Linked DNA regions of Homo sapiens: region 1 is linked to region 2. The links come from fine-mapping of genetic effects on gene expression. Tissue or cell type: macrophages. Region 2 holds a variant in brackets; the other region holds the start of a gene. All regions are shown on one strand. Distances are between the middles of the regions.

Evidence for each region. PIP is the estimated chance that this variant, and not a neighbour inherited with it, causes the effect.
Region 1: it holds the start of DARS1, and the variant in region 2 is fine-mapped to the expression of DARS1 in macrophages (Nedelec 2016, PIP 0.95).

What each region holds. Positions count from the first base shown.
Region 1 is chr2:135,980,676-135,988,850 of GRCh38, forward strand. DARS1 (aspartyl-tRNA synthetase 1) reads right to left here and starts at 4,951. Exons shown (of 16, transcript NM_001349.4): 1 at 4,728-4,951; 2 at 2,722-2,779. The coding sequence starts at 4,793. DARS1-AS1 (DARS1 antisense RNA 1) reads left to right here and starts at 4,501. Exons shown (of 4, transcript NR_110199.1): 1 at 4,501-4,841. RefSeq lists a silencer at 4,588-4,647 and an enhancer at 4,698-4,797.
Region 2 is chr2:135,941,775-135,949,774 of GRCh38, forward strand. DARS1 (aspartyl-tRNA synthetase 1) reads right to left here. Exons shown (of 16, transcript NM_001349.4): 5 at 1,604-1,706. Among named protein-coding and RNA genes, the nearest start is that of DARS1-AS1, 39 kb to the right of the region's middle. The variant G/A (reference allele first, on the strand shown) is at 3,257.

The DNA.
Region 1 (8,175 bases), 39 kb after region 2:
AAAGACAGACACATCAGCAGAAGATTTTAAAAGGCAGATTTGAAAATGCCAAGACTGAAAAAGCAATGGCTAACCAAGCAATCACAACTCAAAACCACACAAAACAGAAAAGCAGAAGTCTAAGAGATATGCGATAATTAGGATAATTTTACTAGCACTTTGGAGAAGAAAAAGGGTAATGGCTCTTCTTTCTTGTGGCATGGCAATTAACTAGCATAGGGGTTCTCAACCTTTAATACACCCGAACATACCCGAAGCCCATGCCATACTCACATCACTATGACTGGCTAACCAGTAACAACCAAGGTAGTAGGATTTCAGTTTGAAAACTGCACTTTTAAGAGTCATGGGCATCAGAGTGATTAATGCAGAGAAATGGAAGCAGATGAGAAAGGAAACCACCTTGAGCAAAGAATTGGCATTTTTGCAGAGGTAAAACCAAAGGCCGAATTTTACATACATAGGTTATCTTTCTCTCTAAGTGGAAGAACGCAACTGTCTGTGGATTTGCCAGCAAAAGAACAACAGCAATTATGTTAATGGCTGCTTTGGGCCTATGTTAAAGACCTAAACTCCAGTGAGCTTCTTTGTGTTACAGCTCAAGGAAGTACAGTTGAGAAAGACACCTAACCTGAAAACAAAGTCTCAAGTGTCTCCTCCTGCTTGCCCTGGCAGAGGAATATCATCCCCTATACTCTATTGCTCATAGTCTATTTTACATAGGTTGAGCATTCCTAACCCGAAAACCCGGAATGCTCCCAAATCCAAAACTTTTTGAGTGCTGACATGATGGTCAAAGGAGATGCTCATCGGAGGATTTTGGATTTTCAGATTAGGGATGCTCAAGTGGTAAATATAATGCAAATATTCCAAAGTCCAAAAAAATAAAGTCCAAAACACTTTTGTGGTCTCAAGCATTTTGGCTAAGGGATACTCAACCTGTACTCAATTACTTTATTTCATCTTTATGTTTTGGAAATGATTTTCAGAAATTTTGGCTTTTTTTTTTTTTTGACAGGGTCTCACTCTGTTGCCCAGGCTGAAGTCCAGTGGTGTGATCGTGGCTCACCGCAGCCTTGACCTCACAGGCTCAAGTGATCCTCCCATCAGCCTCCTGAGTAGCTGGGATAAAAGGTGTATGCCACCACGCCTAGCTAATTTTTTTACTTTCTGTAGAGATGGGGTCTCACTATGTTTCCCAGGCTAGTTTCAAATTCCTGGGCTCAAGTGATCCTCCCAACTCAGTCTCTGAATTTTGGTCTTTTATTGTATTCTTTCCCAACAAGCCTGGGAAAGAAAAGTGATTTTGTGATCATGTGGCAAATCAAATATAACAATAAAATTAACCTAGAGGTGTTTTATTTCCAAAGCATAATATTCATAGGCAGCCCTCTAAACTGGAAGCAGTGCTTCCAATGGGCAAGAATGTAAACGTCTACAATTACTGCACCAAAGAGTGAGAGACGTAATTTGAAGTGTCTACCAAAAGAAAAATTACTGTCAAATAGTTAAGTAAGACAAATCTGTTGAAATTACATATATAGAATAGAAGTAAAAGAAAGGCAAACATTTATAAATAAAAAATCTACAGGTCTGAGAGAAACAACATGAGTCAGGTCAATTTCAAAGAAATATAAGGCCGGGTGCGGTGGCTCACACCTGTAATCCTAGCACTTTGGGAGGCCGAGGTGGGTGGATTGCCTTGAGTTCAGGAGTTCGAGATCAGCCTGGGCAACACAGTGAAACCCCATCTCTACTAAAATACAAAAAAAAAGTGAGGCGTGGCGGTGTGCGCCTGTAGTCCCAGCTGCTCAGGAGGCTGAGGCAGGAGAATTGTAGGAACTTGGGAGGCGGAAGTTGAAGTGAGCCGAGATCATGCCACTGCACTCCAGCCTGGGCGACAGAGCGAGCCTCTGTCTCCCAAAAAAAAAAAAAAGAAATATAAAGATGCCAACATACACTAACAAAAAAGAGCGGTTATAAGAAAAGATAGACTGGGGTCTAAGAATAATTCATTTCATTCCCAGACACTAAAGCTACGAGTAAACAAAATGGAGTGGGGGTGGAGGCTTTAAAACTCAAATCATAGTACTGCCAAAGAAGCCAGAGAAGATGTAAGATGGAAGGACCCATGGACTCTAGGGTCAGATGGCCTTTGGTTCTAATCCCAAGTCTGGCAGACTCTGTGTAAGTCAAGTTTCTTATCTTTCAACTTTGGTTCCTTAGTTTTCAAGGATGCTGTAGAGAATAAGTGAAAATATAAATGTTTGGGAAGAGTCAAGCAAAATAGGAATAAATAATAGCTAAAAACAGTCAGAGAAGTAAAGTTGTGGGGGTTGGGGGAAGTAAAAGAGGTAGCTTTATTAAAGCATGCAAAAAGGCTACATGTGATGAAGGCAGTTATTAGCCACTCTCCTATCTCCTAGACAACGGTTGAATCTTACCTAATAATTTAGGAATATTTAAAAAATATAATCTACCATTTAAAACATACCATTTAACCTACAATACCTAATAACATTTTTTTTCCTTTTCTAGAGTTGGAACCCTAAACTGACAATGTTTACACAGGGTTATGACATCTACTTGGATTATTAATGTCATTTAAGCTTTTCAGAATTATACCTTCAGATTTATGCCAACCTTACTTAAAATTTCATTTAGAGCTTTCCTGGAATTAGAAAGCAAAAAAGCTTTATTTACTGTCACATAGCTACTAACCTGGTTTTTCTTGTGATTGTATCATTGAAGATATTCCATATCTCTCTTTAGCATAATCCTACAAAAAAAGTTTTTTGCATCGTGACTTTTTATGTAAACACTAAGAGCACAGTAAACACATAAATACTAATAATAGAATATAAAAATGAATTTAACTTTCAGGATCATTTTATTAATTCAGAAAGTCAGTAGTTTCATAATGTGGAAATCTCTCATTCATTTACATATGTACTCTACAGAAAACAGAAAAGTACTGTTTCTGGTTAGTTTGTTTTGAAGATCACCACTCCTAGATGGATTTACCATACTTAATAACATTCTCAGATAAAATTTACACATATGTACAACACATCTTAACTACCTTCTTCAAAAAGATGAAACTACTTCAAAGCAGGGACATAAATTTCCTCTGTGAAGGGAGTAGGATGAAGTACCACAGTTTTATTAACTTCCTATTACAGGAAGAAATGTTCAAAGAGAACCAACGTTTTGGGTAAGCTTTCTGAGCACCAGATGTCCACAGTTTTTAGAAACTGGAGATGCTGGGTATAAGCTAACTACAACTTTCCTTTTGTAAAACATCATCAAAAAATTCACCAGCTTCCTGTTTCTAAAAACCAGATTCAGGATACCAGGTTACAGGAGTTTGACACTGACAATATAATAATATCAAATTTCTTGTTACAGATTAGAGTTAGGAACAGGAAACAGAAGACCTAGGGTCCAATCTGTTAACAAAATATACTTATTAAATAGATAAGTGGCCTTTATTTCAATCTTACTTTACCTCTAAAATGATCTAAGATTCTTCTAGCTATAAAATGGCATAACTCTGCCACAATGTCTACCTTGTATCTAGACCTATACTATCTGTAAGGGTACACTGATAGTTTATGTAATTAAGCAGATTAAGAGTACACAAAAATAATTGCCCTAGTTTTTACAAGGTAACTTAAGATCTGTATGAAACAATTAAGTTTCTGTCACTTTACAGCTACCTGTTGGAATCCTCTCCTTTAGAGCAGGAGGGTGCTGGATTTTGTGTTTACACCAAAATAAAACCAGACATGTTTAAGGCGCTTACTGAACAATTTAAAGAAAAAGATAACCCTGGCCAGAGTAGAGAGATACAGTCACACAATGAAGCCTGAGGGCAACAGAAGGAGATTAAATTGTGTGAAGGACAAAAAAGTTGCATTCATAATTAGTACTATTAATATTTCAGTGACTCTTCCTCATTTAGTATTCTAAGATGACCTTACTTCTCATGTTGCTTACCACAAACTCAGAACTCCTTATAGAAAAATTAGGGAGCCAGACGGAAATTAAGGCTTAACAGTACTACAGCACACATAACTTGTAGGATGGTTTCAAACTTTGATTTCTGAAAAGCACCGAAGGATCACTGGGTGTTATGAATTATCCACGTGATTTGGGGTCACTTCACCTCAAATGCATTCTCGGTAACTCCTATTACCTACCTTACCGGGTCACTGAGAGGGAGAAAGTAAATAAAAATGACATGTGTTCTTTAAAGCTGTCACATGGGAAATGGTCATTAAACATATTGGCAGATGGTTTTGCTAAGTACTGTCATTACTTGCTAAAGCATTAGGAACACGAGGGCTGAGTACATATCGATTACTAGTGCTTATTAAAATTTTCCCAGGGATTGTGCATTACGTGCAGGACGTGCCTAACCCAGAGAGACTCAAGTGTGACGCCGCGCTCCTACTTCCGGGGCGGCTGGTTCTTCCCGTCCTCCCCACCCCGGGGACACGCTTCTAGTAGGCCAAACTCCCAGGTGACCCCCGCAAGAAACGCGGTCCGGAGAGGGTCTGGCCCCACTGCTGGGGCAAGGGCTCTAGGCGCCCGGACCCCACGCCCGCAGCCTGCGGAGAACGTGCCGACAAGGACCTGTAGGGCCCCACTCCCCCTCCTCCCTCCCTCGGCGCAGCCCGGCCCAGGGGTCTGTCCTCCCAGGCCCAGGAAAGGAGGAAACCCACTTCCGCCGCGTCCATGATCTCCCGCGGCTTCTCCTGACTCTTGCGGCTGGCGCTGGCGCTGGGCATCGGGACACGGAACTGGGCAGTGGACACCACCCTCCCTCGCAGGCTTCCGTAAGGCAGGCCAAAGGGGCTTCTCCCTCCCTCCCAGTCTCCGCCCTCCCGACCCTGGGGTCTCAGCACACGCGCTCGGACTCCGCGTGGAGGTGCGGCTCCAGAAAGATCGCGAGAGCTGCGGCTATCTCGAGATCCCGGAGCGCTGGCGGCCGCGCGCAGGGTCTCCTCCCACTCTTGCCCCGCCCCTCCGGGAGTTTTCCCGGAGTTGGAGGGAATTCCCGGGAATTCGCGGTAGTTTCGCTGGATTGGCTCTGGGGGCGGGGGCAGGGGTTACCAGGTGGCTGGCTGTAGACCTGGGCGAATGCCAGCTCTCTTCAGCTTCGTCCCAACTGCGACTTCTGCTCCATTCTTCTAACAGCCCTTTCAACTCCGCTCGGCTGTAACCGCAGACTCGTCACTAAAACACCCACCTAAGCGCGGGCCTTGGTTTCTCCTCTCTTGGACTTTCCCGCCTTCTCTCTTCCCCTGGGCGACGTAGCTGCTTGGGGACGGAGGAGGCCTCTTCGCAATCCATTGCCCTGCTTGTTGGGACAGAGGAGTGCAGTTGGCTTGCCAAGGCAGCATGGGTTACCAGTCCCTGTGTAAGTGAGGTGTAAATACAGTGGCAACGACAACAAGAAACGCATACAATTGCATTGATTGCCTGGATCTGTTGCAGTGTTAGGGACAGTGCATAGTGTTGGTTGCCCAATGGGCGAATATCCCCAAGTTAGGCTTTTTTAAAAAACTGATTTTTTAAAAAAGCTATCATTCATGAGTTTTGAATCGAAATTGAAAATAATTTGGAGATTTGGTTTAATACTGTTTCCCCTGCCAGAGTTTGCACTCCGTCGTTTCAACTGACTTGGTAGTGTCTTAGTCTGGCACAAAGTGTTAAGGGGTGCACATAGATCCCAGCGCAAGTGAAAGGCTCTCTCTGGAGGCTCCCCCATGGAGTAGTGAGAAGACAGCCATGGTCCTTGCTTGCCTGTAGCTTTCCTTCTAATTGCAGGTGGTATGAAATTTTATTCCCTATTTAATTGATCAAAGATTATTTACAAACATCTACTTTGTGCCAGGCATTCTATCAGGTGCTGGCAATAAAAAGATAAGTCCTAGTTCCTGTTCTTAATATTACACAGGTACCTAGGCTGATAGATGCGCCATCTTGATACATGCTTCCATTATTACAGAGTCAGGAAGAGAATTTAGCTCTTAAAATGGCTGCCTGGAAGTGACACATTTCACATTCTCCTAGTTTATTGGCGAGAACAAGTCACATCGTCATTCCTGAGTTCATGGGGGCAGGAGAATTTACTCATTCCTTGGGGAGCAACACTGAATATTCATGATCAGTATCACATTCCGTTAAAAAAGGCATCCCATTATACTCATGGGATTCGAATACAGAAGGGGGTCTGTGAAGTTGCTTCATCTTGGAATTTTTTTTAAAACTTGGATTGCCTCAATCAGGTATAGTCCTAATGTATGGACTGGTTATCAGAAATCTGAATACAAATCCCATCTATTATCCCTTTGCTAGGGTAGCGATCTTACCTTTCCATCTGTCCATGAGGCCTGTCCATGTACTTCTTTCTTACTTTGGCCCCGTTGCCTTGATAAAAGTATTCTTATTTAGTCCTGGAATAAGACTGTAAATATATATTCTTGTTTCTGGCCTCCTTTCCTGATAGTGATAGAAAAGAAGCATTTGCCAGATCAGTGGCCACATGTCATATGCCTGAGGTCTTAAGAATCTGCTGTAGTAAAGATACCACAGCTGCAACTGAGGCTGTGACTTGGTTGAACTTGCAGTAGTCTACTGTCAAGTTCCTGAATTTGTCTGGTTTTTGCTGGAGCCACACCGGTGACAATAGGAATGTGATGGAGACTACCAACCATTACGTCTTTAAGGGTTGCACTGATCTCCACTATTCCCCTTGGGGACATGTTATTGTTTATGATTTCCTATCCTAGTTGGGGGCTGGGAAAGTGACTTTTAGAGATTTCCTCTTAGCTTTATCCGGTATGGTAGCCTATTCCACAGACCAAAGAATAGGGGAACAGCTCTGCTATGGTGCTCTGGCTGCTTTGCAGGATCCACATAAGCCATGTAGGCAAGGGCGGGAACTGCAGCTAACCTGAATCTTGGAAAAACATCTTGTGATCCTGCTGGAACATGAGAGGGTGGAAGGCCATCTCCCACTCACTTCCCTGTCTCCCTGAGAGGCTGTTATGGGATGGTTTCTTACTACCTCCTAGATTCTGATGAGGTGTGGGACTTCTTGCCCCCTTCCCTCAAGGGAAATGCAGAATACAAAAATGTATATAATATCTTACTGCTTAACTGGAGTCTAGAAGTGGCTGTTAAGCAACAGAGTGTCCCACTACTCATGTTGCAGTCATTTGGTGCCTTTTGTTTCAGTGATGTCCTTAATGGGACAAGAATCACAGGGAGCTGGCAACTTTGGCTTATTCTTCTTTCTCTCTCTCTTTTTTTTAATTTAATTTTTTTTTTTTTTGAGACAGAGTGTCCCTTTGTCTCCCAGGCTGGTGTGAAGTGTCATGATCTTGGCTCACTGCAACCTCCACCTCCCAAGTTCAAGTGATTCTCCTGCCTCAGCCTCCCGAGTAGCTGGGATTACAGGTGCCCGCCACCATGCCTGGCTAATTTTTGTATTTTTAGTAGGCATGGTTTCACCATGTTGGCCAGGCTGGTCTCAAACTCCTGACCTCAGGTGATCCGCCTGCCTTAGCCTCTCAAAGTGCTGGGATTACAGTAGTGAACCACCGCACCTGGCCTTTTTTTTTTTTTTTTTTTGAGGCAGGGTCCCACTCCGTTGCCCAGGTTGGAATGCAGTGGTGCGATCAAGGCTCATTGCAGCCCCGACCTCCCGGGCTCAAGGGGTCCTCCCACCTCAGCCTTTGGAGTAGCTGAGACTACGGGTGTGCACCACCATGCTCAGCTAATTTTTGTATTTTTTGTAGAGATGGGGATTCACCATGTTGTCCAGGCTGGGGGCTTATTCTTGTTTTCACTGTCTATGTAAGTAATAAACCATCTAAATCTAAAAGCAGCATGTTACAGCTTTACTGATGGAATCATTCAGGCCTTGACATTTCCTTACTTGTCCTGTGTGTTCCTGTCTTGACAGGAATCAGCGTCGGACTCTGCCAATTTCCAATACAATATCCATCCCAAACTATACATTTAGGGAGCTGGAAAATGACTTTTGGGTAGGTCCATGGACCTAGTTGTTGCTGTTAAGAGGGTTGAAGTGCCATTGTGGTTCTTTTATTTCTTTATTTTTTTCAAGACTGGGTTATGAGACTAGCTAATTTTTTTGTTTTT
Region 2 (8,000 bases):
ATATTCAGAATCTACAATGAACTCCAACAAATTTACAAGAAAAAAACAACCCCATCAAAAAGTGGGCAAAGGATATGAACAGACACTTCTCAAAAGAAGACATTTATGCAGCCAAAAGACACATGAAAAAATGCTCATCATCACTGGCCATCAGAGAAATGCAAATCAAAACCAATGAGATACCATCTCACACCAGTTAGAATGGCGATCATTAAAAAGTCAGGAAACAACAGGTGCTGGAGAGGATGTGGAGAAATAGGAACACTTTTACACTGTTGGTGGGACTGTAAACGAGTTCAACCATTGTGGAAGTCAGTGTGGTGATTCCTCAGGGATCTAGAACTAGAAATACCATTTGACCCAGCCATCCCATTACTGGGTATATACCCAAAGGATTATAAATCATGCTGCTATAAAGACACATGCACACGTACGTTTATTGCGGCACTATTCGCAATAGCAAAAACTTGATACCAACCCAAATGTCCATCAATGATAGACTGGATTAAGAAAATGTGGCACATATACACCATGGAATACTATGCAGCCATAAAAAAGGATGAGTTCATGTCCTTTGTAGGGACGTGGATGAAGCTGGAAACCATCATTCTCAGCAAACTATCACAAGGGCAGAAAACCAAACACCGCATGTTCTCACTCATAGGTGGGAATTGAACAATGAGATCACTTGGACACAGGAAGGGGAACATCACACATCAGGGCCTGTAGTGGGGTGGGGGGAGGGGGGAGGGACAGCATCAGGAGATATACCTAATGTAAATGACGAGTTAATGGGTGCAGCACACCAACATGGCGCATGTATACATATGTAGCAAACCTGCACGTTGTGCACATGTATCCTAGAACTTAAAGTATAAAAATAAAGGAAAAGTAAAAATGGAAACTGAAAAATAAAATAAAATAAAAGTACATCATCAAAAAACTTATAGCAAGATAGGTCCATTATTATTCACTTATATTGGTGAGTAGTTTTTCAGATGTGTTTTGTATTTTTCCCTATGTGGCTGTGGTAGACTGTTTGCAAAAATGGCTGCAATACTTCCTCTTGCTCCTGCATGTATATTCCCCTGCAATCATGTTGCTTTTCCTCCCATCAAGGGCTAGAATCTATTTCTCTACCCCTTAAATCTAAGTTTTGCTGTGTGACTTTGACGAGTGGAATATTTAGCAGATGTGACACAAGTAGAAGCTTGAAAAGTGTCTGTTCTTAGGGTTTCGCACTCTTGCCTTTGGGAACCCTCCTGGTACCTGAATATCAACATATCTGGGCTAGCCTGCTGGATGAGAGGAAGCCACAGAAAGAGATGTGCCAGATTTATCAGTGAGCCCAGCCAATGTTGCATGGAGCAGATGAGCCATCTCAGTTGGGTGCATCACAGAATTGTAAGCAAATAAATGTTTGTTGTTTCAAGTCACTAAGTACTGGGGTGATTTGTTATATAACAAAAGCTAATTGATTCAGTAACTAATTTATAAACCTCAGTATTTTACATTAATTAGTAAGAACATATAAATTTGACATGAAAACTATTAGAACCCAAATCTATTTCTATATGCGATTTTATATTTTGAAAAAACTTACCTTCTGAACATGTAACTCAACGTCTTGCTGTGTACAGCTTCCAATTTTCTGATTCACTTTTCTCACAACACCTTCTACATCCACAATGCTCTCTTTGTTGATGCTGTCAAGAGAAAAAATTCCCAACTTGAATCATCTCATCAGAGGTGTCAGAACTCCTCTGGTGTTTCAGCAGTAAAGCTGAATATGTTAAACTCTTTTTTAATACAGTAAGCCACTTGAGATAAAGCCAGTCTATTTAACCTACTTAGAATAAGCTATTACGTAGCATACCTTGTGAGATTCCTTGAAGAGATGATTTTTTAGATGCCATAATTTAGTTACCACTTATAAAATACTCTGGACATAAAAGGTAATAAAACCAGTACCGAATTGGGAAAAGTAGTAAAAAGTCTTTTAATTATTTATTAAAGAACATTTCCCTCCCTATTTTTGAGAATCACTAAGATCAGCATTTCCTATAATGAGAAATACTGGCTTCAATAAATGCAATTACTGGTATGTGATGGAATTAAATAATAGAAGACGGTCAACTGAAAAGATTTTAAGGTAATAAGAGGACATTAGCGTGCTGTTTTGCAATTAAATCCTCACTACCTTTAGCTTCTGAGTATACTCCGTCATCAGATTTATGATTATTGGATTGTGTACTCCCATTTAAAAGGGTGCCTATATGAAGTTTAATATATGATGAGTGTAAAATAAATGCATCTCCTGGACAGCTTATTTTTATAATAACTTGAATTCTGAACACCAGACACTGAAATTCTAAAATACAAAATTTATAAAGTAGCTTATTAAACACAATGATTATTTTTTTAATCACTAGTACATAACCAAGGAAGAAAATGTATACTCCAAAATGGTGATTCCCATACAAAATGTACCAGTTTTACTTTTGTGTATATTCTTGTACTGACAAAGTATATCACAATATAGTTGATGAAAAGGATAAGATTTAATTTTCATGGAAAAATTCTATTCATTCTGATGAGGATTTGGGTCTTTAGTAGTTGTGGTGCAATTAGACATTCCAGAAACCAGACAGTACTTACTTTAAACAAGAGAACACCAGAATCCATTTCAATGAAAAAGGATCAAAATGAGGATAATAGGTGAAGAGTAGTTAAGAAAGAAAATTGTTTATGTCACTTGGCTACACTGCCTAGAAATCTTTATGTCTGTTACCAACTAACTTAAAAAAAAAAAATCAACAGCATGCATATCTCTTGTACTCTCGTAAGTCTCCTGCACTGGGGCTATCACCTAATACCTAGCTAAAATCTTGACTACTGAAGAAACTCAGAATTTATTATGGCAAAAGAAGTAGTTGGTGAACTAAGATAAGGCTCTTCTGAGGCTTGAAGGGATCAAGAGGCTCCAGTGGACTGTTACAAAGTTTTCTAATACTTGCAATCTAGTGTCACTGAACTGAATCTATCTTCAATTTGACTGCCACCTACCAGTAAATGTGATAACTGAGTGTATATTCAGGCCTGGTGAGAATTCTATTGCTTATCTCACACATCTTCACAAGGAAGGTTTTCTCCTCTGTATCGATCAATGTACTGCTTCATCAAGCAACCTGACCTGTCCCAAGTAGAGGTCCACTCTGCTACCTTTCTTCTATATCCCTGACCCCTTGGTCCCCTC[G/A]TCTCACAAACTTTGACTCCTATTAGAAGGCATTTGCTGGCCCTCTGCACCTTCCATTATCAGACAGTCTTCTTCAGGCCAACTCAAGTCAAACACATCTACTTTTTTTTTTTTGAGACAGGGTCTTGTCTCTGTCACCTAGGCTGGAGTGCAGTGGCTCCATCTTGACTCATTGCAACCTCCGCCTCCCGGGTTCAAGTGATTCTCCTGTCTCAGCCTCCTGAGTAGCTGGGATTACAGGCATGTGCCACCATGCCTGGCTAATTTTTGTATGTTTAGCAGAGACAGGGTTTCACCATGTTGGCCAGGGTGGTCTTGAACTCCTGACCTCAGGTGATCCACCCGTCTTGGCCTCCCAAACTGCTGGGATTACAGGCATGAGCCATCGCGCCCGGCCCAAACACATCTGCTTTTAAGGACTGAGCGTCATGCTAGTATCCTTCTAGAAAGAAGGTGGAATGTAGTCAAAGATACTCTGCCCAGGGCTGGCTGTAGGTCCAATTAAAGCAAAAAAAAATTCCCTCTTCTTTCTCATTCAAAAGTACCAGATGACTCTTTTAACCCAGGACCTGAAACATGGAACTATATCTACCTTTAGTACTTTAATTTCGTAGTACTGAGTGCTAAAATATTAGATCAGCTAGTCTAGAAAACAACTACCACTTAGAACATTGTTTCCAGGACGAAACAACTTACAAATTAACTTCTGAAACCACAAACTATTTCTTAAGCTAGGGCCAAAGCTATTATAAATTTCTGCAATTACAAATTGTTCTACTGAATCAACGGGAAAGAAGGCAGGATTAATCAGACATAGAGAACAGTTAATTTTTTTTAACCCTTCCAATCTCAGTATTTCCCCTTATTATATGCAGCTGTTAAAAATCATAACCTATTTAGACATTAGTAAAACTATTCCATGATTTTGGACAATTTAGCCCTATTATCTCTATACAGCTACATCTGTATCTACATCCATTTTTGTCTTACTGTAGACATGAGTGAATTCAGAAGAAAAAACATTAAAATCAAAAAGGTTCCATTTGTGAAAAAGGGTCAGACTATCCGAGGGTTTTATGTGTGTATATATAAAATAGAGTCAAAACAAGAGAGACAGGAATACTTGCGTACATTACTGCAGTAGAAGAATAAAATTCTACTGACTGTAGAAAGAGTCTGATTATATGGTTTTAACTGACATTGTATATGAAGATGGCATAATATCTACAGGAGAGGAAAGGAGGGGAGGGGAAGAAAGAAGGGAGGAGAGAGGAGAATGAGGGTACCACTGCTAGCTTCTTTTCATTACTGGAATCCCACAATCTTCCTTCAGAAACCTCACATGCTATAGGTGATATGTAACCTTCTGAGAAGCAATCCAAGTTATGGGTCCAGTGTTTATGTATAAATTAACTATTGGAAAAACTCAAATTCATTCTCATCCTTTTAGATAAAAGAAAAAAGCAGGGAAGAAAGGGTAGGCGGAATGAAGGAAGTTGAATTATTTTCTTTCCCTCAATGGGTAATCTTGAGCATATCACACTTTGGAGAGCACTGGGGTAGAGAACAAGAATCATAAACCCTGAGAAATGGCTACCGTAGATGATCTGAAAATCAAGGGTGAAGGTATAATTTCTGTATAGGAGACACGTGAAAAAATATTTAACAGCACACAACTCCAGTCAAAGAGGTCACCATCTTGCAAATAAATGGAGACATAAATCGGGGGAAAAAGCAGTTTATCTCTTGCTGCTGGGTCCCAGTATCAGGTTTTGACTCTGACGAGTCCTCCTGAGCATATAGAGAAGAATCACTGGGATCAACTCACTGCAAACTCATCTCCTAGGTTCAAGTGACCCTCCCACTTCAGACTCCTGAGTAGCTGGGACTACAGGCAGGCACCACCACGCCCGGCTAATTTCTGTATTTTATGTAGAGACAGGGTTTCATCATGTTGCCCAGGATGGTCTCGAACTCCTGGGCTCAAGTGATCCACCTGCCTCTGCTTCCCAAAGTGGTGGGATTACAGGCGTGAGCCACCATGCCTGGCAAACACACTTTTATTTTTATAGCTCAAATGAAAGTGATTTTAGCCCAGGCACGGTGGCTCATGCCTGTAATCCCAGCACTTCTGGGAGGTCGGGGTGGGTGGATGACCTGAGGTCAGGAGTTTAAGACCAGCGTGGCCAACATGGTGAAACCCAGTCTCTACTAAAAATACAAAAAAATTAGCTGGGTGTGGTGGCGTGGCCCTGTAGCCCCAGCTACTCTGGAGGCTGAGGCAGAAGAATTGCTTGAACCCAGGAGACAGAGGTTACAGTGAGCAGAGATCGTGCCACTGCACTCCTGCCTGGGTGACAGAACGAGACTCCATCTCAGAAAAAAAAAAAAAAGAAAGAAAGAAAAAAGAGAAAAAAGAAAAGAGATTTAACAACTAAATCCCTAAAGTATTATTTCTATTATTTCTTTAGCAATTCCCTTTTATGTTCCAGGTTCTGTGTGAAGTGCTTTAGGTAGACACTATCTCATTTGCGCTTCACAAAGGCCTACACGGTAGGTATTATCAACATTTTACAGATGAGAAAACTGAGACTCTACAAGGTTAAGTAATTAGACTACCATCACATAGCTAATAAGATCATTTAATGATTATTGCACTAGACAGTTCTGTTACAGACTGACAAATTAGAACTAAATTTAAATATCTCAGAATGCATCATCAGCTCACTATGAAATAATACATTTTCATTCTTAGAAGCTCATGAGCTGCTAGATTGCTTTATAGTTTCTGTGAAAAAAAAAAAAACAAAAAAACAACAACAACTGAAAATAATAGGCCCTTTAGTAATAGTTTCCCAAATGTCCAGGAATCATACTACCTTCCCCAGTAACACTGATGTATCTTGATGTTTTGCTGTTGTTGCCAACCTTAGTAGAAATTCAGCAAAATCTTTAAATAATAATTTCATATTGTTTTATACAAAGTTATATTTAGCCCAGGAGAATTAATCCCACAAACGATCTGAAAATTTCTGACAGCAGATTTTAGACCCGTTTTTTTTCTTAGCACACCTTTAGCATTATCCAAATTTTCAATACAGATGTTGCAGTGGACAGGACTGAAAATAGAAGCTGTTTTTCCTCTAACAGATAAATACCCTGTTCCAACAAAGAGGTATAAAATGTAGGTGCAACTGTTCAAGGAGTTGCAATACACAACAGTATAATGGCCTTGCCTACATTCACCAACTTATCCATATGGATGCTCAAGGGGTATCCACATGCACACCTCTCTTTGGGCCTCAACTACAGACAATATACACTCCTATCACAGCACCTGTATACCCTGCCTCTGCATGCAGTTGTTTATCTCCCTTGCCCTCTCCCAAAATTAAGCTTCTCCTAAGATATATATGACACACATAAATCTTTGCATACTCAAGCCCAGCAGAGTACCTGGACCAGAGCACGTGCTAAATACAAGTTTGTAAAAATCAATGAGACTTCTTCTGAGTATTATTTTGGTATTTTCCAGATCTAATAGTTAATGTAGGCTGGGTACAGTGGCTCATGCCTGTAATCTCAGCACTTTGGGAGGCCAGGGCGGGTGGATCACTTGAGGTCAGGAGTTTGAGAGCAGCCTGGCCAACATGGTGAAACCCCGTCTCCACTAAAAGTACACAAAAAAAATTTAGCTGGGCGTGGTAGCGTGTGCCTGTAGTCCTAGATACTCGGGAGGCTGAGGTAGAGAATCGCTTTAACCTGGGAGGCAGAGGCTGCAGAGAGTCAAGATTGTGCCACTGCATTCCAGCCTAGGTGACAAAGCGAGACTCCGTCTCCCGTCTCCAAAAAAAAAAAAAAAGTTAATGTAGCAAACTGAAATTTTAACCTACCAACTAGTAAAACACCTATTTTAGGTGAAAGATCTAGAAAGGAAAGAAAATAAACAAACTTGTAGGTAGCTAGGTGACTCATTAGAGAATGAGAAACATACTTGTGACTCATCAGCTACCAATAAATCATTTAACCACAATGACTAATATAAAGAAAAATAAAATAAAATATATATGTATACACATAATGGTACTAAAAAAGGCTTATTTTCAGAATCAGAATACCTCTATGTTTGGGGAGAGTGGGAAGTATTATATAAGCACAAACAGCGATATATAAATTTTAACTTTAAAACTACTTTTCACATTAATTGTAGTCCTTTATAGTGGGCACTGTAACTTTAAACTTTAAAAACTTGTGTTTACACTCACTGTCCTCTCTAACAGTCAATACAAAAAGGCCTCCAGGACTTCCTTTAAAAAAAAACTGGCTTTATAACACTTAACCAAAACTAACACAAACTACTCTGTTAATTACTTTAAAATGGCACACATACAAAAAAATTTTTTTTAAAAGAATAAAGGGATAATATCTCAACTTCAGGATCAACTATTAAATATTAGATAAGATGGGGATCCAGAAATACAGGCCTGGATAGATGGGTATTGCATCTTCCTGCTTCTAGACAAATTTCATTTAAAAACCTCAAACCATTTCAGATATATAATTAAGAACCTGTTCCTAGAACCTCTAGGGAATTAGATGTGCCAACCTTCCTATGTAACTCATTCAATTGCTTCATTTTTATATGCATTCATCCATGAGAAAATTGATCTTTCCAACAAATTGATTAAAATAATGTGTGAAGAGTCCTGTGGCACTTAAATCCAATTAGTGAATCAACTTTTTA